Homo sapiens: one gene and its partners. The protein of the gene in region 6 interacts with the protein of the main gene of each other region in a biochemical or structural test. Each region holds a gene or a part of one and is shown on either strand. Other genes may lie near its edges. The genes, in order: CCNL2, PRKN, SNCA, PTOV1, YWHAE and DYRK1A.

Region 1 (4,125 bases), on a different chromosome or scaffold from region 6:
GTGCAGTGGTGCGATCTCAGCTCATTGCAAGCTCCACCTCCCGGGTTCATGCCATTCTCCTGCCTCAGCCTCCTGAGTAGCTGGGACTACAGGTGGCCGCCACCACGCCTGGCTAATTTTTTGTATTTTTAGTAGATATGGTGTTTCACCGTGTTAGCCAGGATGGTCTCAATCTGGCTTCGTGATCCACCCGCCTCGGCCTCCCAAAGTGCTGGGATTACAGGCATGAGCCACTGCACCCGGCCTGCATTTCTTTTTTTGAGACAGAGTTTCTGTCTTGTTACCCAGGCTGGAGTGCAATGGCGCTGTCTCAGCTCACTGTAACCTCTGCCTCCCGGGTTCAAGCGATTCTCCTGCCTCAGCCTCCCAAGTAGCTGGGATTGCAGGTACCCGCCACCACACTGAGCTAATTTTGTATTTTTAGTAGAGATGGGGTTTCTCCATTTTGGTCAGACTGGTCTTGAACTCCTGATCTCAGTTGATCTGCCCGCCTTGGCCTCCCAAAGTGCTGGGATTACAGGTGGGAGCCACTATACCCAGCTTTTTTTTTTTTTTTTTTTTTTCTGAGACGGAGTCTTACTCTGTTGCCCAGCCTGGAGTGCAGTGGCGCTATCTGGGATCACTGCAAGCTCCGCCTACCAGATTCTGGTGATTCTTGTGCCTCAGCCTCCCAAGTAGCTGGGATTGCAGGCGCCCACCACCACGCTCAGGTAATTTGTGTGTGAGTGTGTGTCTATGTATATATATATATAGAGAGAGAGAGAGAGAGACACACACTCACATGTTTTGGGGTTTTTTTGTTTTGTTTTGTTTTTCTTGAGACAGAGTCTCGCTGTGTTGCCAGGTGAGTACTGTGGCGTGATCTCGGCTCACTGTAACCTCCGCCTCCTGGGTCCAAGCGATTCTTCTGCTTCAGCCTCTGGAGTAGCTGGGACTACAGGCGCGTGCCACCAAGCCCAGCTAATTTTTGTAGTTTTAGTAGAGATGGGGTTTCACCATGTTGGGCAGGATGGTCTCAATGTATTGACTTTGTGATCCGCCCTCCTCGGCCTCCCGAAGTGCTGGGCTCACAGGCGTGAGCCCCCGCGTCCAGCCCCATCTGCATTTCTGTGATGTCTGTGTAAGTTCTGGGTCCCAGCTGGGAGCCGGAAGTTACAGTCTGCTTGCGTCGCTGTTTGACCTGTAGAGGGGCCTTATCTCGCTCTACGAACTTGTTTCTTATTGGGAGAGTGTTTTGTGGTTGGCTTTTAACCTCTTGTTCTGATTCTAGTGGAATCCCCCAAAGAAGGTAAAGGGAGCAAGCCTTCCCCACTGTCTGTGAAGAACACCAAGAGGAGGCTGGAGGGCGCCAAGAAAGCCAAGGCGGACAGCCCCGTGAACGGGTAGGACCCCAGGGCTGCCCAGGTGGCTGTCAGGGTTGGCTGGAGGGACTTCTGCTTTGTAACTGGCTCCTGTCCTGTTCACAGCTTGCCAAAGGGGCGAGAGAGTCGGAGTCGGAGCCGGAGCCGTGAGCAGAGCTACTCGAGGTCCCCATCCCGATCAGCGTCTCCTAAGAGGAGGTGTGTGCCTCAGGGCGCACCCAGGAGGCCGATACCGGGGTGGGGCTGTCCCTCGGGGTAATCATTCTCACCCTGAGGTGGTTTCTTGTTTCTCTAAACCTGGAGCTTGTGTGTCTTGTCTGAGCTCCTGTGGGTGTGTGGGGCCTGGCCGGGCCAGATGGTCACACGTGTGGTGGTGCTGTTCTTCCTCCCAGGAAAAGTGACAGCGGCTCCACATCTGGTGGGTCCAAGTCGCAGAGCCGCTCCCGGAGCAGGAGTGACTCCCCACCGAGACAGGCCCCCCGCAGCGCTCCCTACAAAGGCTCTGAGATTCGGGGCTCCCGGAAGTCCAAGGACTGCAAGTACCCCCAGAAGCCACACAAGTCTCGGAGCCGGAGTTCTTCCCGTTCTCGAAGCAGGTCACGGGAGCGGGCGGATAATCCGGGAAAATACAAGAAGAAAAGTCATTACTACAGAGATCAGCGACGAGAGCGCTCGAGGTCGTATGAACGCACAGGCCGTCGCTATGAGCGGGACCACCCTGGGCACAGCAGGCATCGGAGGTGAGGCGGGGTTGCAGTGACTGGTGGCCGCAAGCCCTTCCCTGGGGAGTACCTGATGGCTGCCCTTTGACCCCCGGTGGCTGCCCTTTGACCCCCGGGTGTGCTCTCAGCGCAAGTGGTCCTAGAACAGGATTCTTTTTGGAAATGTCTGTCGACTGGACCTTGGTGGATTTGGAAATGGAACTGAGGGACCGGTGACACGTGCTTCAGACCGGTCTGGGGTGCGGCGCACACCTGGGCCCGTGCAGGGCTCAGCTCGGCAGCAGCTCTGAGGGCAGCTCAATGAAAAAGTGAATGCACACGCCCTTGTTGGCGTGGCCTGGCATGGCCTGGTGCTATCGGCAGCCGCTCTCCACTCCCCGACTGATACTCAATTACGTGAAGCCAAGAAAGATGATTTTTAGAACCTTTGCCTATATTAGGTTGTACTTATGTACATATTTTGCAGTGTTTCACAGGAGAAAGTGGCCTTAACTGCCCCTTATTCTCTCTCCACGTTGTAAATAAACATGTGTTTAATACAAGTTAAAGCTATGTATGAAAACTCAGAACTTGAATCCCGTCAGCTTAAAACTTGTGTAGGGAATCCTGACTTTTAAAATGTGAGGGTATTTGGATCTGTGTTGAAAGTCGTATATTTTTATCTGTGCGGTGCTGAGTGCAGGCCACCAGCTCCTAAATAGAGGTTCCCTATATGCGCGTATGACATGGTGAATAAACACAACTCTCTCCACTCAGGACATCCGGAGCGTTATGGACGTGGTAGGTGGTCGTTCTGTGTGCTTGTGAAAGTGTCCAGGCGTGTGCACAGCCAGTGCGCCCACTTCCGGGCTCCTTGCTCCCTGCTGTACTGAAGTTTTGGATTTTGCATCCAATCCTGTGTGCCTGCCCTTCTGCCGAAGGCTTGTGAGGGGCCTGAGTCCTCTGCCCATCAGGATGACAGGCTCCTTCCTGCAGGGCCATAGGAGGGAAGTTTTGGAAACACAGAATGATTCCAAGGTGCTCTCGTTCCTGAGGGGGACTGGTTTGTAACCCATGACATCTGTGGGCGAGAGAGGCAGCTGGGAGCAGGACACTTGGAGGGTCACCCCACGGGGGTGGCACCTGCACTCTGAGTGCCCCCCACTGTCATCAGCTGCCTCTTACCGTGGACACAGTTTTGGTTTTGGGGACTAGGGGGCCCCACTCCTGGTGGTACCGTTTGGACTTACTAGGGCAGTGGGACATATAGGCCGGGGCTAGTGGGATAACGGGGAGTTACGCCTGATGACTTTTTTGATGGAATCCTGCATTAGATAGCTGGTGGGACCCCCCCTCAGAATTGGGGAACTGAGGAGACTCCAGGGAGGGTGTCCTTCCAGGGAGAGCAGCTATGAGGGGCCCCCTAGCTTCCTGTGCCTGGAAGTAAGAGAACCAGTAAAGGGCCATACACACCTGTACCCAAGAGACCGCTCTCCATTTGCTTTCTTTTTTTACTAAATAATTGTAAAATATTATTATGACATAAAGAACCATTTAAGGCCAGATTTTATGTTCTCCTAATTTGCATTGCGCCCAAATGGTGTTGCAGTAGAAAATGAGTTTTGGCCGCGTGGTGGGAGGCCGGGCGCGGTGGCTCAGGCCTGTAATCCCAGCGCCGTGGGAGGCCGGGCGCGGTGGCTCAGGCCTGTAATCCCAGCGCCGTGGGAGGCCGGGCGCGGTGGCTCACGCCTGTAATCCCAGCGCTGTGGGAGGCCGGGCGAGGTGGCTCACGCCTGTAATCCCAGCGCTGTGGGAGGCCGGGCGCGGTGGCTCATGCCTGTAATCCCAGTGCTGTTGGGAGACCGGGTGCTGTGGCTTACGCCTGTAATCCCAGCACTGTGGGAGGCTGAGGCAGGCGGATCACGAAGTCAGGAGATTGAAACCATCCTGGCCAACATGGTGAAACACTGTCTCTACTAAAAATACAAAAATTAGCTGGGTGTGGTGCTGCGTCCCTGTAATCCCAGCTACTCAGGAGGCTGAGGCAGGAGAATCACTTGAAC
Region 2 (3,500 bases), on a different chromosome or scaffold from region 6:
TTCAATGCCAAGTTAGTCAAGGTTATGTGAAATATAGCCCATATTTTATTTTTTGTCCAATCTTCAACATCTCTCTTCAGGTTCTAGAAGAACAAGAACCCATCCTTTTTGGCAAGCATTCTCTATGCTCATTCCCCTATTCCTCCATCTACAGAATCCTACCTCAACTCAATTCATCCAAGAAGTTCTTCCTGGTGACTTCCAACCAGATGTGTTTTCTCCACCTTTAAAACTTCATAATATTTTCAGGTGCGATACGGCAGTTATGTTTCATATTCTTATATTATAGCTATTAGGTTGAACAACATGAAATTGTTGAACCTGTAAAAATGGCAATCCCATATGGTTCAATCTAATATTTCTCTCGGTTTTAGGGCTCATAAATAAAGAGCAGTCTCCATGAAAACAGGGGCTGAGTTAGGTCTCTCTTTTGGATCCCCTGAGAAGCCTAGGACATTGGAAGTGCTTAAGAAGTGTTTGTCAAAATAGACTCATAAATCAACACATGTCTTAGGCATATATGTTTGCAAAGTCAATCATCTGAAGCAATTAGTCTAACTACATATGAAATCGCTAATTGTTTTATGAATCAGCACAAATGGCAGTTTAGAACCTGAAGGTTTTGGCAATATAAAATGTTTTGATTCAAGGAGCTGTTTTAAAATTATTTATTTGTGAAGGAAACATCCTTGGATTTAGAGGTTGGCAGATACAGTGAAAATCTTTTTAGTTGACTGAAATAGAAAAAAAAAAAATCAAAACCCTTTTTAGCACATGCACTTCCCTTATAAAACCAAATTGCCTGAAAGCAGAGGCCAGCAGTTTGTGCACAACGAGTATGTGCCTCAACACCATCAGCAGGAGATGCAATGCAGAATGACAGGAACAATTTGCATTTCTGTAGCTTCTTTGTATACCCAAATTCTGAGAGCATTTTACAAAGCCATAAATATCGTTACCCACAAGAGACAGGGAAAGGATGCAGATACAAGGACGGACTTTGTGTACTCTGACCCAGGAGCCCCCCTGCGCGGAGCAGTGATACCCACACAGCTGTAAACCTGAGTGCAATTAATTGATGCTGGTTAAGAAAAGGGGAACATACATCTGCAGGGTCCTTCACAGTCACAGGGACCATTCCCAGAAAGCGTTTCGTCTTTCTTGCATTCACAAAGAATAGCGTCAACAAATGTTGAGTTGTATTTGCGAGTTTCCCCAACAAAGGACGGGTCTCTAGTTCTAGGTGATGGTGGTATTATCAGTCACCTCACCAGTCCCCCTAATTCCTACAAAAATCACCAATCCGAATGACATGTGTGTAGGGCTTTCATGGGGCTAGGAGCAGTGGGCTGCCAGAAGCTCTGCTGGGGCCAGGAGAGAAGAGAGCATCGTTCACACTTATTACGTTGCAGGGGCCTATTTCCAGGGACAATGTTACTGAACCTTGGAGAAATTCATGCAAAGGTATACTGTTGTTGTGCTCCAGGCTTCCTTCCCCATCAGCTGCAGAACTGTGCGATTCTGGTCCTGGCCAAGGAGTGCCCAAAGCTAGTTGCCAATGGGCCCCGGAGCCCACACCTCCTCTAGCGCAGCATAGCAGCAGCCCTCACTAACCTCCAGGGGTCACAATTGGGTTACAAATTCCTCACAGTGCAGGGACTGAGCAGCCTGATTGGGAACAATTTATTCGAATCCTTCTTCGTTAAGATTCAAATGGAATAAGTAAGGTAGAAATTGAACAGACACAGAAATTGTGCCTTGCTGCTCCTGTAGTCAGTAGACATTTATTCACTAAGCCTAGCTCGTGTGTTCTTTCTCTCTCTCTTTCTCACTCGCAGTTGTTCTTCCAATCTTTCCTGCTTGCTGTTTTAATGCATAATTAAGAAGGTCAGAATTAATGAAGCAGTGTGGAGTAAAGTTCAAGGAATCCCCAGGCACTATTTATTCTATTAGATCTCAGGCATGAATGTCAGATTGGCAGCGCAGGCGGCATGAGCAATGGAGCTGGCGGCATCCCAAGAACGGCCGCCAAGGGAGACTCACCTGCACAGTCCAGTCATTCCTCAGCTCCTTCCCTGCGAAAATCACACGCAACTGGTCAGCCGGAACCCCCTGTCGCTTAGCAACCACCTCCTTGAGCTGGAAGATGCTGGTGTCAGAATCGACCTCCACTGGGAAACCATGGCTGGAGTTGAACCTGACAAACACTGACCAAGGAAATTGGAAGGGAGAAGAGAAAGTGAGCATCACTCGAAGCCCTTAAATGGTGATAGCAACATTTCTCAACCGATTTACCCCTCGCAGCCCTTCAGTGAATGGTATATATTTTCTTTCACTTACAACAAAAAACTTAATGCTATAGAGCAATATTTGGGAAAAACAGAGTTAGTTACCCACGAGATTTCCCTTTCATATATTCGTCAGTGACCTGCAAACCAAAATTGCATTCTCCCTTTGACATCCATCCTGGGAAACAGAGAGACTTGAGCAGGACACTTGCTTGATTGGAATTGAAAGAGTCCCATGAGTTTATTGAAAAGACTCAGCTCTGACAGCATGTACACACTCACACTCCCTCCACAGTGACCCTCTTAATAAAAATAGGAGGCGATGTGTTAGCACTCAAGGTATAGCAATGGAAAAAAATCTAAGCTGCTCTATAGACCAGAGTGAAGACCCACTCGGGGCTATGGCTCAGAGCCCTAGACTTGGGTGGTCCTGGCCAAAATGCTCCACTGGGTCTATGAAGACAATTATTTGCCCTCTTTTTGGCAGGGAGGGGGTGGAGACACTAGTGACACCATTTGTCTTATTGAAGCCACTGTTCCCCGTGAGACCCAGGCTGCATCCTCTAGTCTGTCTGTCTGCATGCCGTCTTCTCACTGCACCTGCTGTCCCACCTCTTCAGCGTCTCTCACTGCCCTTTACTTTCCATTCTTTCTCTCACTGCTTGAAGTCACGCTCTCATCACATCTTTTCTAGAGTCTCATAATAGCCCCCAACTGGAGTCTTGATCCACGCCATCACCTCCAAAAGGCCCTACATAGTTCTGCAAAATGAGCCTTATTAATACAGAGCTATGTCACACCACTCAAATCCTTTAAGTCTCACACTGTCGGCTGGTGAGGAAAGACTCCAAGATCCCTTTCATCTAGCACAAACCTACATTCCAGCATTTTCTTCATTAATCTCCATGTGTACTCTTTTAAACTAAATGCTCCCAGAAAAAAAAAAATCACAAAAAACTGCTGCACACAACTTCTTGCTTTTATTCATGACCTCCCTCCTTCTCCTCTTCCTATTGAAATCCTGCCTACCTCCATGGCCCACTTCAAATGTGACCTCCCCCAAGAAGCTTCTGGCTATCAGCTACTGCAAAAGCCTGATCTTCCTTATTCAGGGCACCAGTGGCATTTACTATATATGTCTTTTAATATTCACCACATTCCTCATGGAAGCAGGATAGCACACGGGTTAAAAGAACATCCTGAAGCATTAGG
Region 3 (3,500 bases), on a different chromosome or scaffold from region 6:
GACATGCTTTGTACTCCCCAGATAAGCCTCAGTCTGAGAGGAGTTACACCATGTCAGCTGTTTAGTGCTATTCACATGACTATTGTATAGGTTTCATCTCACCAGTTGAAGAAGCCAATATTTACTTATTTATTTATTTATTTATTTATTTTGAGACGGAGTCTTGCTCTGTCACCCAGGCTGGAGTGCAGTGGCACGATGTCGGCTCACTGCAAACTCCGACTCCCGGGTTCAGGCCATTCTCCTGCCTCAGCCTCCCCAGCAGCTGGGACTACAGGTGCGCGCCACCACACCCGGCTAATTTTTTTATATTTTTAGTAGAGACAGGGTTTCACCGTGTTAGCCAGGATGGTCTCGATCTCCTGACCTCGTGATCTGCCCGCCTCAGCCTCCCAAAGTGCTGGGATAACAGGCGTGAGCCACCGCGCCTGGCCTGAAGCCAATATTTAAATGGTGTGGACAAAGCAATTTGTTTTCAAATAGACTATGTAAGCTAAGGGGGTCTGTAAGGACAAGAGGCTTTCTCCTTAGTACAGGCAATGTGGGCAAGCCTGACATAGCCACACAGCCCAAGACCAGAAACGGTCCACAGTAGTGTTGCTCCCTATTTGTCTTTTAGGCTAGAATTTTGTACAACTACCTAACAACTCCGTGCCACTTCTAAGGATATGGCTGATGTCTCCTTAAGAGCAAGAGCTATTTACAATTCAAAGTTCGATTTAAATGCCAGCGAAAAGCTGTACTGAAAATCTTATGTTTTAAAACATTTCTGAAATGTTGATCCTTTAAAAATAGTCAATTATGTGTTTCAAGTTGTCATTTTTTTCCTTTTCAAGGACGTGAATTGAAAATTTTGCTTGAAACGAACATTTTCTTGTTATAAAATCTCAAAGCGAGATTAAAAATAGGTTTTGAATTTTTTACAGATCCAGCCATAAATTTTATAATATCTAGATAGCCTTTTATATATGTATAAATTTTAATCTAGTTTTAATGCAATACACTGCACAGTAAAATGTACTCTACACATTATTATAATTTTGTTGTTTTATTATTATAATCATAAATAAAATGGCTACATTACAAAATGACAGAGTGTACATGTAGCAATAATCGACACATTTAAAAACATTTCTGTAGAACTGATTTCTCTAGTAGGGTCTCTGCTGACCTTTAACCTCTATTTTTCCCCTTGAGGGCCTTTCACACTATCTCTCTACTCACTGACATTCCAAATGACGGGTGACAAAACAAAAGGAAAAGAGACACACTCATATTAGTACATTTTGGGTCTAATAAATGGTAACTGTTTTTCGGCAATTGAGTTCTTTGAAATCAGGGATTCTGCTTTATTTTTCTTTATATTATTTCATAGTAGATAATAAATAATTTAGAATATACTAAAATGAATTTAGTGTCTACCTCTAATGTCTGCATTAATATAAATAATAGGTTTATATTTGACTTTAGCTACTTTAAAAATAAAATTCCAAAAAGGAAATGTGATACCAACTTTTAGAATAGATATAGCCAAATCTAACCTTTGACATTAAACAAAATTATAAAATTAATATATGGTTTTGAATTGTTATACAAGTAAATATGTATATTTAAATATACATATGTAAATATGGATTTAAAGAAAATAAATTTGAAACAATTTACTAAGGAAATTTAAATCATAATATGTTGAAAATTAGTTTTGTTCATTATGATGTAATAAATTTATAAGAATCAAAACCTTCAGAAAATCTCCAGTGTTAGAAATTTCTTTATACTATACTTGCATGAAAAATAGGTAACTTTATATCATAGTTTATTTTTAAAGTACCTGAAAAAACATATCATTCAGTAAGTTTAATTAAACACATTTTCATATATTTCTATAATATGATGCATTAAGTTGATAACTGAAATAATTTCCTGAGATCAAACAGCCAGGATTTAAGTTGGTGGATTTTTCATTGATATTATCTAACTAGGATAATTTATTTTATTTGAACTTTGTAGGTAGAAAGTTCCCAGCCCAAGTTTACTGAAGTCTGTATTTCTCCCCTGCCCCACCGAAAAAAAAAAAGCTAATGGGATGAATTTAGGGGAAATTGTTTCTTTAATATTAGAAGATAATATTAGGTACTATGTAATAATTTCTTGTTTCCCTGCATTAAGACTTGTAGCAAGAACAATTAACAATTAGTTAGCACTTAATATGTACCCATAATAAACATTTTACATCAGGCATAATATGCAAATTATTCTCCCTCTCTTTAACCATTGAAGTGTAATTATCTTATTTCTTCTCATAATTAGACTTAAGCACTTTATATTAAATAACCCTATTCAAAAAGTTAATTCATTTATCTGATGTGGGAGAGGAATGATTATGATAGCAGCCGATTTATCCCAATGTGTTTCTCATAGCCATACTAGTTATGACAGCATTTTTGGTTATTTCACTACTGCCAGGGTGGTCCATGGGTGCAATCGCTGTAAATATTGCACATGCTGAAATCACCATGTCCTTACTGCCTAGCAACATTTCCCATAGTTTTCTGTGGAACACTAGTTTCATTCAACCCTAGTAACTAATGAAGAAAGTTTTCAATAATCAAAAAGTTTGAATAACCCTGATTTTAACTATGTAATGCAAATTTCTTTACTGTAGGACATCTCAGATTCCTTAATACGCTAAAGAGAAAATAAAGTATACAAAGTCTCCCAACATTGTACAATGTTAGAAACTTAAGATTGTGAGCCACTGTCCTTCAGAAAACATTTTATAAAATGTCTAATTGTACAAACTTCAGTCTCTCTCTCTCTCTCACACACACGCACACACACACACACACACACACACACACAGATATGTGTTTACATTTTGGCATTCTGGAAAAGACTAAAAAAATGCAGCCCATCTCCACAGTCTCCATTAGATCATCAGGTGACAGTAATAGTTGGGTTCTTTAATTTTTACCACTGACTCCAGAACTTGCCACATGCTTGTCTGCTTTCTAAACCTCATGGGTTCTTCCTCAACTACTAAATGGAACACCATTCATCTAGGTTGACCGTCTTCAGATAGTGGAGTCTCCACCTGTCTGTTATCTAGTTCTTATTATAATCATGCTTCACAATATCATATTTATAGGAGGTCCCTAGAAGGCATCATAGTCCACTTACTTAACTACTTCTCTGTTGGATTGCAACAGAGCCCATTAAAGGTGCACAATTAACTTCTAACAGAACTAGTTTCAAAGGAGTCTGTTTTATTTTTACACTCTGATTTTTAAATCAAAAGTATTCATTTAAAGAAATATTTTTCTCCACTAGTTGTAAAAATGTTGCACAAGAAAGTTCACTATAAAACTATAAGTAACACTTATAAAATACATATTGTTTGCTTTTGTTTTCCAGATGTTTTGTGTACATTAATTCACTGAATTATTTTATAGATGAGGAAGCTAAATCACACAGAGGTGAAGAATCTTGCAAAAAACACA
Region 4 (3,500 bases), on a different chromosome or scaffold from region 6:
GGGGCTCCAGGCCTGCCAGTTTCTTACATGGAGGAGGCTTTAAGGACATTTTCAGGTAACAAAAGGTGGGGCCCTACCGAGGGGAGTCCAGCTGGGACCTGGCATGAGCACTTTAGACATTAGCCGGGGAACACACAGGGAGGGCGCTGTGTGGCCCCCCGAGAGCCAGCTGGTGAGCCCACGAGCCTCAACCGAGGGGCTGGCTCAAGGCCAGGTGTGACCCCTGAGGACAAAATCCAGCTCAGGTTCTGTGACACTGAACTTGAACCCAAGGCCTGCGGGTCTGGAGATTCGGGGGGGAAGAGGGTGTGGACAGCCGAGAGCCAGACCCAGTGAGTTCCCGGGCTGTCCAGCCTGCTGGGCCACCTTAGAGCTAGGGGGCTGCAAGGCATCGGGCAGTGAGCAGAGAAGGCAGGCAGGTTTTTAAAAGGCTTTATTGGGGAAACGTAGAGGGGTGGGGACCGTCCTTGGAGGCCTCAGGACACCATCCTCCATGTTGCTGGGCAGTTGAAGTCCCCAGGGGCCCCTGCTCAGAAGCGTGTCACCTGGGGGCAGGGGTGCAGTGGGGGCTGCTGGCCACAGGCTCCCAAGCACTGACCCCACATCCCTGTGAGCAGAGGCCTGGCCCCACCCAGGCCTGGATACCACCTCCCATGGCCCTGAGGCTGGGCTGCAGTTTCCCGACAGCCTAGGACCGCTGGGACTGCTGCCTCTCCCTCTGCTCTGCTCTCCCCAAGGCCAAGGTCGCCCTGCTTCTTTCCCAACCCCACCCCCCCCACATGCCCCAGGGTCCCTCCTGTACATGACAGGGTCACCACTCACCAGTCTCTGCGGGGGCCTCATCTGTGACTCCTGGAGGGGCCCAGCCCGGGGTAACCACTACCCCCCCATCTACGGCGAGAAATCAGAGGCCAGTGGTGAGCAGGCAGCGGGGGTGGAGGGAGACTGAGCAGCCCTGGAGGCCGGCCACCTCACCCCTCGTTGCTGTTGCTCCTGCTCCAGGTTCCGCTGCAGGACCTGCTGCTGGTTGGCAATGACACGCCGGATGCCGTTGACAAAGTTGCCCTGGTCATGGGGGATGAGGCCAATGAAGATTTTCTTCTCTGAAGAGTACAGGAGCATAAGCACGCGGATCTCACACGATGCTTTGTAGGAAAAGTGCACGCAGCCGGCCTGGCAGGCACAGGGCGTGGTGTCACCAGACAGCACCACAGGGACCAGCATCCCTCCAACCACGGCATCATGCCGTGGGCTCCATGAGCCAGGCACAGCCTAACTGCTCTGTCCTCACACCCCCCACCCACCCTGGAGGTGGGCCCCCTTATTGGGATGACACGGTGGCCAAGAGCAATGGGTGGGCCAAAGGCCAACAGGCTCTGTCGGGAAGGGCCCAAGAACCTGCATTTCAGAGCTCCTGGGCAGGCCAGGCTGTGTCTGGGGCCACCTCACCACAGCCACCTGAGCCAACCGGCCATGGCTTCAACTCAGGAGCCCGAGGGATCTGCAGCGGCCGGCCCAGCACAAGCAAGGGCTGAGGTACATGGAGCCTTTCTGGGTTTCCTTGAGGAAACTTTTTTTTTTTTTTTGAGACTGAGTTTCGCTCTTGTCGCCCAGGCTGGAGTACAATGGCATGATCTCAGCTCACTGCAACCTCTGCCTCCCGGGTTCAAGCCATTCTTGTGACTCAGCCTCCTGAGTGGCCATCATGCCTGGCTAATTTTTGTATTTTTAGTAGAGACGGGGTTTCACCATGTTGGCCAGGCTGGTCTCAAACTCCTGACCTCAGGTGATCCACCCGCCTCGGCCTCCCAAAGTGCTGGGATTGCAGGCGTGAGCCACCGCACCCGGCCCCTGAGGGAATGCTTGAAATTGCTTTCATGTAAAAGCACCTACACCCAGGCCCCCCCCACCCACGAACAGCTTCGTGGACAGTTTACTCAGACTGAGTCGAAGGTAATTTTAAGGTAGTTTCGGGATATTACCCAAGTATGGCCCAGCTGGAAGGTGGACATCGGGGGGAGGGCTCAGAAACACCAAAGTCCAACCTTCTCCACCTCACAGATGGAGAAACTGAGCCCGAGAGAGAGAAGAGGAGTCAGCTGAGCCTCCCCCAGATAAGACAATCGCCAAATATTCTGGGACCTTGCTGGGGGCAGACAGCCCTCCCTGCCCAGCAATGGGCCTTTGGGATGTGGCACAAGCTCCCGGGAAACCAGGAGTGACAAGGGCGCCTGTCCCTGAGGAGTGGAGAGCGCGGAGTTGGTGCTGAGTCAGCCCTGATGTGGCAGAGGAGGAGCAGGCCCCCGCAGAACCAGGGTCAGTGCCCCATCCAGTGCCGTGGGGACAGCACAGAGCCCCCAGAAGTCACGCCCACACTAGCCACCCTCTCTCCCCAGCTGGTCTGGGACATGGTGCTCTGTTCCTCTCCCATGTCCGCCCCCGTGAGCGGTCCGGGCTCGCTCTGCCCTGGCCGGCCCCTCCCCTGCGTCTGCTGGCACCACTCACGAAGCCATTGTCCATGATCCGGCACAGGCTCTTCAGTGTCTCCAGGTCCTTGGTGAAGTGGAACTGGACCAGGCGCGAGTTCCGGAACAGCGGCACTAGGGTGGTCTGCGGGGAAGCGAGGGGACCCCCAGCTCTGGCTTCTCCCACCACGGCCTCCCGGCTCCCAGCCCGCTGAGTCCCCCGGGCCCAGGACCAAACTGAGACTCCCCTGTCCTCCCTACCTCAGGAAACGTCATCTCCACCGCTCAACCAGCCCAACCCTGGAGTGCTGTGGAAGCCGCTCTCAGATCCCTTGGCAGCCCCCCAGGTGCAGGTCGTGGCTGCCCCTGCCCCGCTCAGTCCCTGCACAGCCACCAGCTGGCTGCCTGGGACCCCTTGAAGCCAAGCCTGAGGAGCTACCCACCACACCTGCTTCAGCACCCTCAGCTCCGCTCCCTCACAGCCAGCTCAGGCCACCTGGGGAGGCGCTCTTGCCCCCAGCCCCGCCCTCTGGAAGAGCTACTGCGTGCAGGCTCCAGCACCCGGCCCCAGCCCCTCACCAGCAGCTGCTGCGGGATGAGCTGCATGTACAGCTTCCTTGGCCACTGCTCGGTCCTCCTGTGGGGCACAAAGGGACGAGGGTCAGGAAGCCCCAGCTCCCCTGGATGCTGCCTCCACCCCCCAGCCCAGCACTCACAGGATCTCCCCCTGGTTCACGTAGACGTGGGATGGCAGCCACCTCTTGGACCGACTGTTGGGCTCAGGCCTGGGCTTTTGGGGGAGAGGCAAAGAGGAGCCCTCAGGGCTGGAGACCCCCAATGCCAGTGTCCCCTCCCAGCCACAGTCCGTGAGGATCTGGGGGTCCCAAGTCCCTGGGCTGCCGAGTGCTCACCTCCTGCCACTCCATGACACCACTCCATGCCAGAAACTTGTTGTTGACGATCTGGACTGGGCCTGAGTTGACACCACCAGGTCCCACTGCCTGTTGGAAGGGAACGGGGTGGGAAGAGGGGCCC
Region 5 (3,500 bases), on a different chromosome or scaffold from region 6:
AATCTAAAATTAATATCAAAACAACTATATACCAGCTCAACATGACAAAATTATTATTTGGGAATAATCTGGACGACCTTTACTTTGGATATGCAAATTTACAGATGTAAGATTAAGGATTTTGAGAATATTTCTTTGTGCATATCTTACATAAGGACTAAGCCCAGAAGACTACACTTGCTAAGAATAACTCAAAAAGGTAGGTTATCATCTAATATGATCCTAGCACAGCAGTAACAAAAACAATTATCTGACCTTTCACATTAGATAAGAATGTTTCACAACAAATAGTACCGACAAGTATTACACTTTACAGTTTACAAAAGCCCAAAATTTCATAACCACCCTGCAAATTAGTAGGCAAGAGAGACATCACTAATCCCCATTTGAAAGATAAGGAACCCAGTGATTCCTGTGCATTCTGTGATGGCAGATTTACCACATCTGCCAAATGATGAAATACTGTCATAACTCTTACAGTAATGCATCTCCTTCAAACTTTAGATATGAATGAAGAGTTAAACACATTTCATATTGCTTTAGCTCGATAAAATCCTGATCTGATCACAAATCAAGCCCACCAACAACAGATCCGTCCAGCTACTATGGTAGATTGTTGGAAGGGCAATAAATTCAAGATAAAAATTTCAGAAGAGATAAGCCAGGATCATGGTCATATGGTCTGAACTACACAGTTTGGCATTCTAAACATAACAGTTGTAACAAGATATGGGTGAGCCTTTAAATTTTTATGTGGGTATTTGGTATGAAAGACACTTGTAAAAATAAAAAAATAAAATGTATGTAGGGAAAGCTCTGAGCTTAGGACACTGCTACCAACACCTAGGTCTATTATATTTTTAAACACAGAACTGGCTCAAGGTAGCCATAAGAAAACCAACACACTAGGTGTTGACACCATCAGAGGATTTGGAATGCCAGCAAGCTCTATTTTCAGCAACTACCACATCCTTAACTAGCACGTTCCCATTTGTGGGGGAGGGAGCTAGGAGGAGGAAATTTTCACTTTTCCTTTGACTTATATTCTGCCAAAGGCTAACTTCATTTGAAAAAAAAAAATTCAACCTCCTAGAGACGTAGATCTAAGCTATCTCTGTGATAAAAAGCTGGACAACGTTTAGGAAACTGTTGTATGAGTCTAAATGACAAAATCTAGTAACAAATGGCCATTAAGTAGGGTGACCACAAGGCAAGTTTGTTGCCCAGGACAATCCCAGTTTATGCCTGCTGTTGTAGCTGATGAATTAGTCTGTCTTTTCAAGATATACTCATGTGGATGTTAAATTATGGTGACTTTCATTATTATTTGCTACAATTTAATAAATTTAAATGAACATCTGAAATTGTTCTTAGGGCCATGACTAGCATTAACATTTAGTCAGAGAACCATGAGGTTCTGTTGGCAACCAATTCGTCAATTTGGATATATCAATACCTAAATATATCAAGCTGGCCGGGCGCAGTGGTTCATGCCTATAATCCCTGCACTTTGGGGAGGCCACAGTGGGAGGATCGCTTGAACCCAGGAGTTACCTGGACAACACAGTGGGATCCCGTCTCCACAAAAAAAAAGTTTTAATTAGCTGGTCATGGCGGTACCAGCTACCTGGTGGGAAGATCACATGAGCTCAGGAGTTCAACATCAGCCTGGGCAATCCGCTGGGACCAGGCCTCTACCAAAAAAATTTTTTTGCCAGCCATGGTGGCTCACGCCTGTAATCGCAAAACTTTGGGAGGCCGAGGCAGGTGAATCTTGAGCTCGAGTTCAAGACCTGGGCAACATGGTAAAATCCTGTCTCTACAAAAATTAGCCAGAAGTGGTGGTATACTTCTGTAGCCCCAGCTACTTGGCATGCTGAGGTGCCCAGGGGGTCAAAGCTGCAGTGAGCCATAAATGTGACACTGCATCCCAGCCTGAGTAATATACTGAGATCTTGTCTCGGGAAAAAAGAAAAAGAAAAAGAAAAAAAAGTTCTTTTAAATTATCCAGGTATTGTGGTGCACAGCTGTGGGCCCAGCTAAGTGGGAGGCTGAGATGGGATGATCATTTGGGCCTGGGAGGTTGAGGATGCAGTGAATCGTTACTGCATCAATGCAATCCAAGCCTGGCCAACAAAGCAAGACCTTGTCTCAAAAAAGTATATGTATCTATCTCAAACTGTTAACTGACCATTTCAAAAATAGTGAAAATAGCCATTTTTCTTGCTGCTCTTTCCTACTCCTTAATGGATTCCATTAGACAGCTATCTAGCCAACCACCCGGAACAACACTGGTGAATCATATGCCAACCTTTGTCCCTCCTAGAAGTTGTATGTCTATATCTGGCCGGGTGCGGTGGCTCACACCTATAATCCCAGCATTTTGGGAGGCTGAGGCAGGCGGACTACCTGAGGTCAGGAGTTGAAGACCAGCCTGGCTAATATGGTGAAACTCTGTCTCTACTAAAAATACAAAAATTAGCCAAGCATGATGGCCCAAGTCTGTAGTCTCAGCTACTCGGGAGGCTGAGGCAGGAGAATCACTTGAGCCCAGGAGGCGGAGGCTGCAGTGAGCCAAGATCACGCCACTGCACTCCAGCCTGAATGACAAGAGGGAAAATCCATCTCAAAAAAAAAAAAAAGTTGTATGACTACATCACTAACCTAACAACTTAATAGCATTCACTAAGACAAAGGTGGCCGGGGGTGGTGGCTCACGCCTATAATCCCAGCACTTTGGGAGGCCAAGTCTGACAGATTGCTTGAGTCCAGGAATTCCAAGACCAGCCTGGGCAACATGGTGAAACCCCATCTCTACTAAAACACAAAAGAAATTAGCTGGGAGTGGTGGATCGCGCCACTGTACTCCAGCACTCCAGCCTGGGTGACAGAGCAAGACTCCATCTCTCCAAAAAATAAATAAATAAATAAATAAATAAATAAATAAATAAAATTTAAAAACATACAAACAAACAAAAAAAACAGCTACTTAAGAGGCTGAGGTGGGGGGATCACCTGAGACTGGAAGGTAGAGGCTGCAGTGAGCCAAGATCGCACCACTGCACTACAGCCTGGGTGACCAAGTGAGACCCTGTCTCAAAAAAAAAAAAAGGAAAAAGATAAAAGTGAGAGGAGAAAATATTTTAAAGCTACTTTACAGAAATGCATAGCATCAGCCATATCCCAGTACAGACATTATGATAAACTACGGGGCTTTTCTTTTCTTGAGACAGGCTCTCCCTCTGTGGCCCAGACTGGAGTGCAATGGTGCGATGTGGGCTCACTGCAATCTCCACCTCCCAGGGTCAAGCGATTTCCCACCTCAGCCTCCTCAGTAGCTGGGACTAAAGGCACAAGCCATCACAGGCCAGCTAATTTTTGTATTTTTAGTAGAGACTGGTTTTCACCATGTTGGTCAGGATGGTCTCAAACTCCTGACCTCAGGTGATCCGCCCACCTCGGCCTCCCACAGTGCTGGGATTGCAGGTGTTTGAGCCGCG
Region 6 (3,500 bases):
GACCAGTCACGTTCCATCCTATCTTCCTGTGGCCTCTGCAACGGGAGAGCCACAGGATCCCATGTAATTGCTGCTTTGCTCCTCAGTAGGTTCAGATAGGAGAGTTCTGATCCCCGCCACTCAGCATGCTTACTGTGCCTGACAAACTTCACCACAACCGTCCCTTTCATACAGCTGAAGATGGTGTTTGTGGAAGCTGGAGGTCCCTCTTCCTTACAGTACTGCATTTCCGTGCCCAAGTGTGTTTAGAGGACTTAAAAACCCAAATTTCCCACCCTCCCACCCAAAACAAAACAGAACAAAACAAAAAAAAAGGGGGATGGGGGGGACAAAAAGAAAAAAAAAAAACACCCTCATGGGGCCCTTTATGCAAATTATGTGCAGTGCCTTTTACTTTAAAATTAGTTGGCAAATGACCAAGACCAACATCTGAATATTAACTTTTGCTGAATAGAAAGACAAAAAAACCCCACTGTGACTGGGATGTGGCAAGTTAAAATGGGGGAGCAAAAAGAGGATACCTCTGAGCTATCCATGAAGATGGGTTTGGACATGGCTCTTTTAAACACTTCAATGTCCCTTTGCAATCTTTTCAAGTTAAAAAAAAAATCAGCTTTGCCCTCTTGTAGCGGTTCAGTGTGTTAATCTCCTCCTGATTCAAGCAGCTTTGCACTTTGTTTTTGGAAAAAAAACACCACTTCTATAAAAACACACAAGAAACAAACTCAAGTTTCAATGTAGTCACGAGCTAGCTACAGGACTCTGTTGCACACAAACTCCTGTCATGGGGGACTCTTCTCTATCAGCCCCTTGCCTCATTGTCAGATGTCCTTCAGTCATGTAATGTGCAGGACCTGTATTAGCAGAAAATTGGTATGTTGGATGTCCAGCTATGCCAGTCTCTTGGCGGGGATTGGAGTAGACGGTCAAATTAACGTCCATAGCTCCATTCTGTCCAAAGTCCAAGGTATTAGCAGCCACTGGGCGATTCTGGTAGGCCTGATTGCCTTGGTTACCAGTAGAGGAGGAAGATGTCGAGGAAGAAGTCGTTGAGGAAGACAGGGATGTCATGGAGTGGTGACTGTGGCCAACCTCCATAGAATCTTGGGTAGAGGAGCTATTCGTTGGAGAATTGTAGACCCTTGGCCTGGTCCGGTTACCCAAGGCTTGTTGTCCATGGTGGTGGTGATGGTGGTGGTGGTGGTGATGGTGATGGGAACTGTTACCATGGTGATGATGCAATGCATTCTGTTGAGGGGCTACATGAAAGGTTGTTTCTTGAACAGGATGAGTTTCAACAGTGACCTGTGTAGGAGCTTCAGTGCCTGACCAACCAAGAGGAGCAGGAAATTGCTGACGCACCTGAAAGAACAGATTTTTAAAAGGATTTTTCAGAGGACTGTTTCCAAGCTTTAATCTTCCATCAAAAGCCATGACACTAACAAACTAGCATCATATTAATCAGGGGGAAACGGTTTTTGAAACTTTTAATGTGTTAAGACAGTTTTATAACACAAAATCCCAAATACATTCAAGGGCAAAAAATTTCATCATGAAAGCTGCAATTTTTAGGAAGTTATATCCTTAAATAGGTTCATCTATTTCACTAGCCACTGTCCTTCCTTGGGAGCCCTGTTTATGCCAGGGGTCAGCAAATATTTCCTGAAAAGGGCTGGACAGTATTCTGGGCAGGTCCAAAAGGAAGTCTTTACTTTTCCCTCATGTCCTTCCTCTCTCCATCTTTCTTCTTTCAATAAAGGACTACTATCTACCTAGCTGCTCAACAATGCCTCTGTCCAACCCATGAGCAAGAACTTATGAGTCTACCTGTGAAACAGATTCCAAATTTGGCCTCTTCTCTTCATCCCCATCATCTCTTGCCTACGCTAACACAACAGCCCCTTAAATGAACTCCTTGTTTCCATCCTTGCCCTTCTCCAAAGGGTAGCAGGAACAATCTTTTCTTAACACAAATCCAATCACTTCCCTATTTAAAATCCTTTAATGACTTCTCACTGCACTTAGAAAAACAAAATAAACCCAAATGGATACAACGATCTGCATCATCTGGCCAATGCCCACTTCTCTAACCTCTTTCTCCACCCATCCTATCCCTGGCTACCTGAGTTCCAAACAAAGAAGACCTGCCTTCCATTCCTCCCCTGGGTCAAAATCTCTCAAATGCCTCAGTGTACTAGTAACACGCTGCTCCCTTCTGCCTAGAAATGTTATTTCTTGGATTTTCTTATTGCTTGGATGTCTCTTTTTCATCGCTTCAGTTCCAGAGCCTTCCCTGACCACTCTGGCTGATGCTGCCTCAACAACTGTGGCAGAAGCTACTGGTTGTGCACAATATTCTTCTCGTTCCTGAGCACATGGCTACACAACACTTCCCAGCCTCCCTTGTACTTACTGATGGCCATATGTCTAAGCTGTCAATGGAATGTGAATGAAAGCTTGTGTCACTGCTAGCCTGGCACACAAGATAATACCTCCCAAGTCCTTCTGCCTGCTGGACACAGTAGACAAGTAGGCCCTAGGGCAAGGTGGAACCACAAGATGGTAGGAGATCAGGACCTGGAAGACGGCCTAGCCACTAACCTGAACACCTATTCTGGACTGTTGCACAAAAATGAAGGAAACTTGGTACTCTTTAAGCTACCATATTTTGGGGGTCTGTTATATCAGAGTTTGGCCTATTCTAATTAATACATCCTATCCAACAAACAGTCTTTCTCTACCAAATTATCCTTATTTTCTTTTTAACAGCTAATGCTACTTGCCATTTTTCTTCATGTTCATTTTATTTACTTGTGTCACTGTAAGCTCTAGGAAGGCAAAAGGCTCAGTCTCTATCCAGTGGCTGGCACAAATTGTTAAGGGTTTATTCAACAAAGGTGGTCTGAGAACCAAACTTTTAAGAGATACTACTGAAAACAATCAGTAGAAAAGCTGGCAGTGAGTTCTCAGAAAATACTATATGGTTTTTATATGAAGTTAATCAAGTTACTGGATTAGAAAATCACATGGGGGGCAATCTGGCAATAGTTATCAAAATTATAAATCACATTACCCTTTGAAACAGTCATTCTGCTTTCAGGAATTTATATCACAGATAAAATGTCTATGTGTGAATGAGACATGTACAGTGGTGCCTCCTTATCCACAAGAGATACAGTCCAAGATCCCCACTGGATGCCTGAAACTGCAGAGGACTAAACCCTCTATATACTATGTTTTTTGATCTGATAATCTAGATGGCTACAAAGCAAAGTAACTTATCTACTGTGTGGACATGCTAGACGAAGGGATGAGTCATGCCCAGGGTGGGACAGCATGAGATTTCATCGTGCTACTCATAACAGAATTTAAAACTTACGAATTGCTTCTGAAATTTTCCACTTTATATTTTTGGACCGTGACTGACTGAATAACTGGAACTGTGGATAAGAAGGGACACTACCGTACAGGGTTATTTATTAAACTACCATTTGTAAATA

What was found.
Region 1: of the proteins of DYRK1A (region 6) and CCNL2, one has a biochemical effect on the other in vitro, tested with the Homo sapiens proteins (one study listed by BioGRID).
Region 2: of the proteins of DYRK1A (region 6) and PRKN, one has a biochemical effect on the other in vitro, tested with the Homo sapiens proteins (one study listed by BioGRID).
Region 3: of the proteins of DYRK1A (region 6) and SNCA, one has a biochemical effect on the other in vitro, tested with the Homo sapiens proteins (one study listed by BioGRID).
Region 4: of the proteins of DYRK1A (region 6) and PTOV1, one has a biochemical effect on the other in vitro, tested with the Homo sapiens proteins (one study listed by BioGRID).
Region 5: the proteins of DYRK1A (region 6) and YWHAE form a complex in vitro, tested with the Homo sapiens proteins (one study listed by IntAct).

Annotation. Positions count from the first base shown.
Region 1 is NC_000001.11:1,385,211-1,389,335, reverse strand, and holds the end of CCNL2 (cyclin-L2), read left to right. Parts: intron 1-288; exon of another isoform or gene 289-386; intron 387-592; exon of another isoform or gene 593-710; intron 711-825; exon of another isoform or gene 826-844; intron 845-1,270; coding exon 1,271-1,382; intron 1,383-1,466; coding exon 1,467-1,559; intron 1,560-1,753; coding exon 1,754-2,105; 3' UTR 2,106-3,625; downstream 3,626-4,125. UniProt on the Homo sapiens protein: Involved in pre-mRNA splicing. May induce cell death, possibly by acting on the transcription and RNA processing of apoptosis-related factors.
Region 2 is NC_000006.12:162,441,267-162,444,766, forward strand, and holds part of PRKN (E3 ubiquitin-protein ligase parkin), read right to left. Parts: intron 2,208-3,500; coding exon 2,044-2,207; intron 1-2,043. UniProt on the Homo sapiens protein: Functions within a multiprotein E3 ubiquitin ligase complex, catalyzing the covalent attachment of ubiquitin moieties onto substrate proteins. Substrates include SYT11 and VDAC1.
Region 3 is NC_000004.12:89,823,662-89,827,161, forward strand, and holds part of SNCA (alpha-synuclein), read right to left. Parts: intron 1-3,500. UniProt on the Homo sapiens protein: Neuronal protein that plays several roles in synaptic activity such as regulation of synaptic vesicle trafficking and subsequent neurotransmitter release.
Region 4 is NC_000019.10:49,857,659-49,861,158, reverse strand, and holds the end of PTOV1 (prostate tumor-overexpressed gene 1 protein), read right to left. Parts: intron 3,467-3,500; coding exon 3,377-3,466; intron 3,256-3,376; coding exon 3,182-3,255; intron 3,103-3,181; coding exon 3,045-3,102; intron 2,813-3,044; exon of another isoform or gene 2,732-2,812; intron 2,611-2,731; coding exon 2,506-2,610; intron 2,317-2,505; exon of another isoform or gene 2,071-2,316; coding exon of another isoform or gene 2,056-2,070; exon of another isoform or gene 1,983-2,055; intron 1,954-1,982; exon of another isoform or gene 1,870-1,953; intron 1,174-1,869; coding exon 976-1,173; intron 892-975; coding exon 880-891; coding exon of another isoform or gene 840-879; 3' UTR 417-839; downstream 1-416. UniProt on the Homo sapiens protein: May activate transcription. Required for nuclear translocation of FLOT1. Promotes cell proliferation.
Region 5 is NC_000017.11:1,390,223-1,393,722, forward strand, and holds part of YWHAE (14-3-3 protein epsilon), read right to left. Parts: intron 1-3,500. UniProt on the Homo sapiens protein: Adapter protein implicated in the regulation of a large spectrum of both general and specialized signaling pathways. Binds to a large number of partners, usually by recognition of a phosphoserine or phosphothreonine motif.
Region 6 is NC_000021.9:37,509,773-37,513,272, reverse strand, and holds part of DYRK1A (dual specificity tyrosine-phosphorylation-regulated kinase 1A), read right to left. Parts: intron 1,363-3,500; coding exon 742-1,362; 3' UTR 1-741. UniProt on the Homo sapiens protein: Dual-specificity kinase which possesses both serine/threonine and tyrosine kinase activities. Exhibits a substrate preference for proline at position P+1 and arginine at position P-3.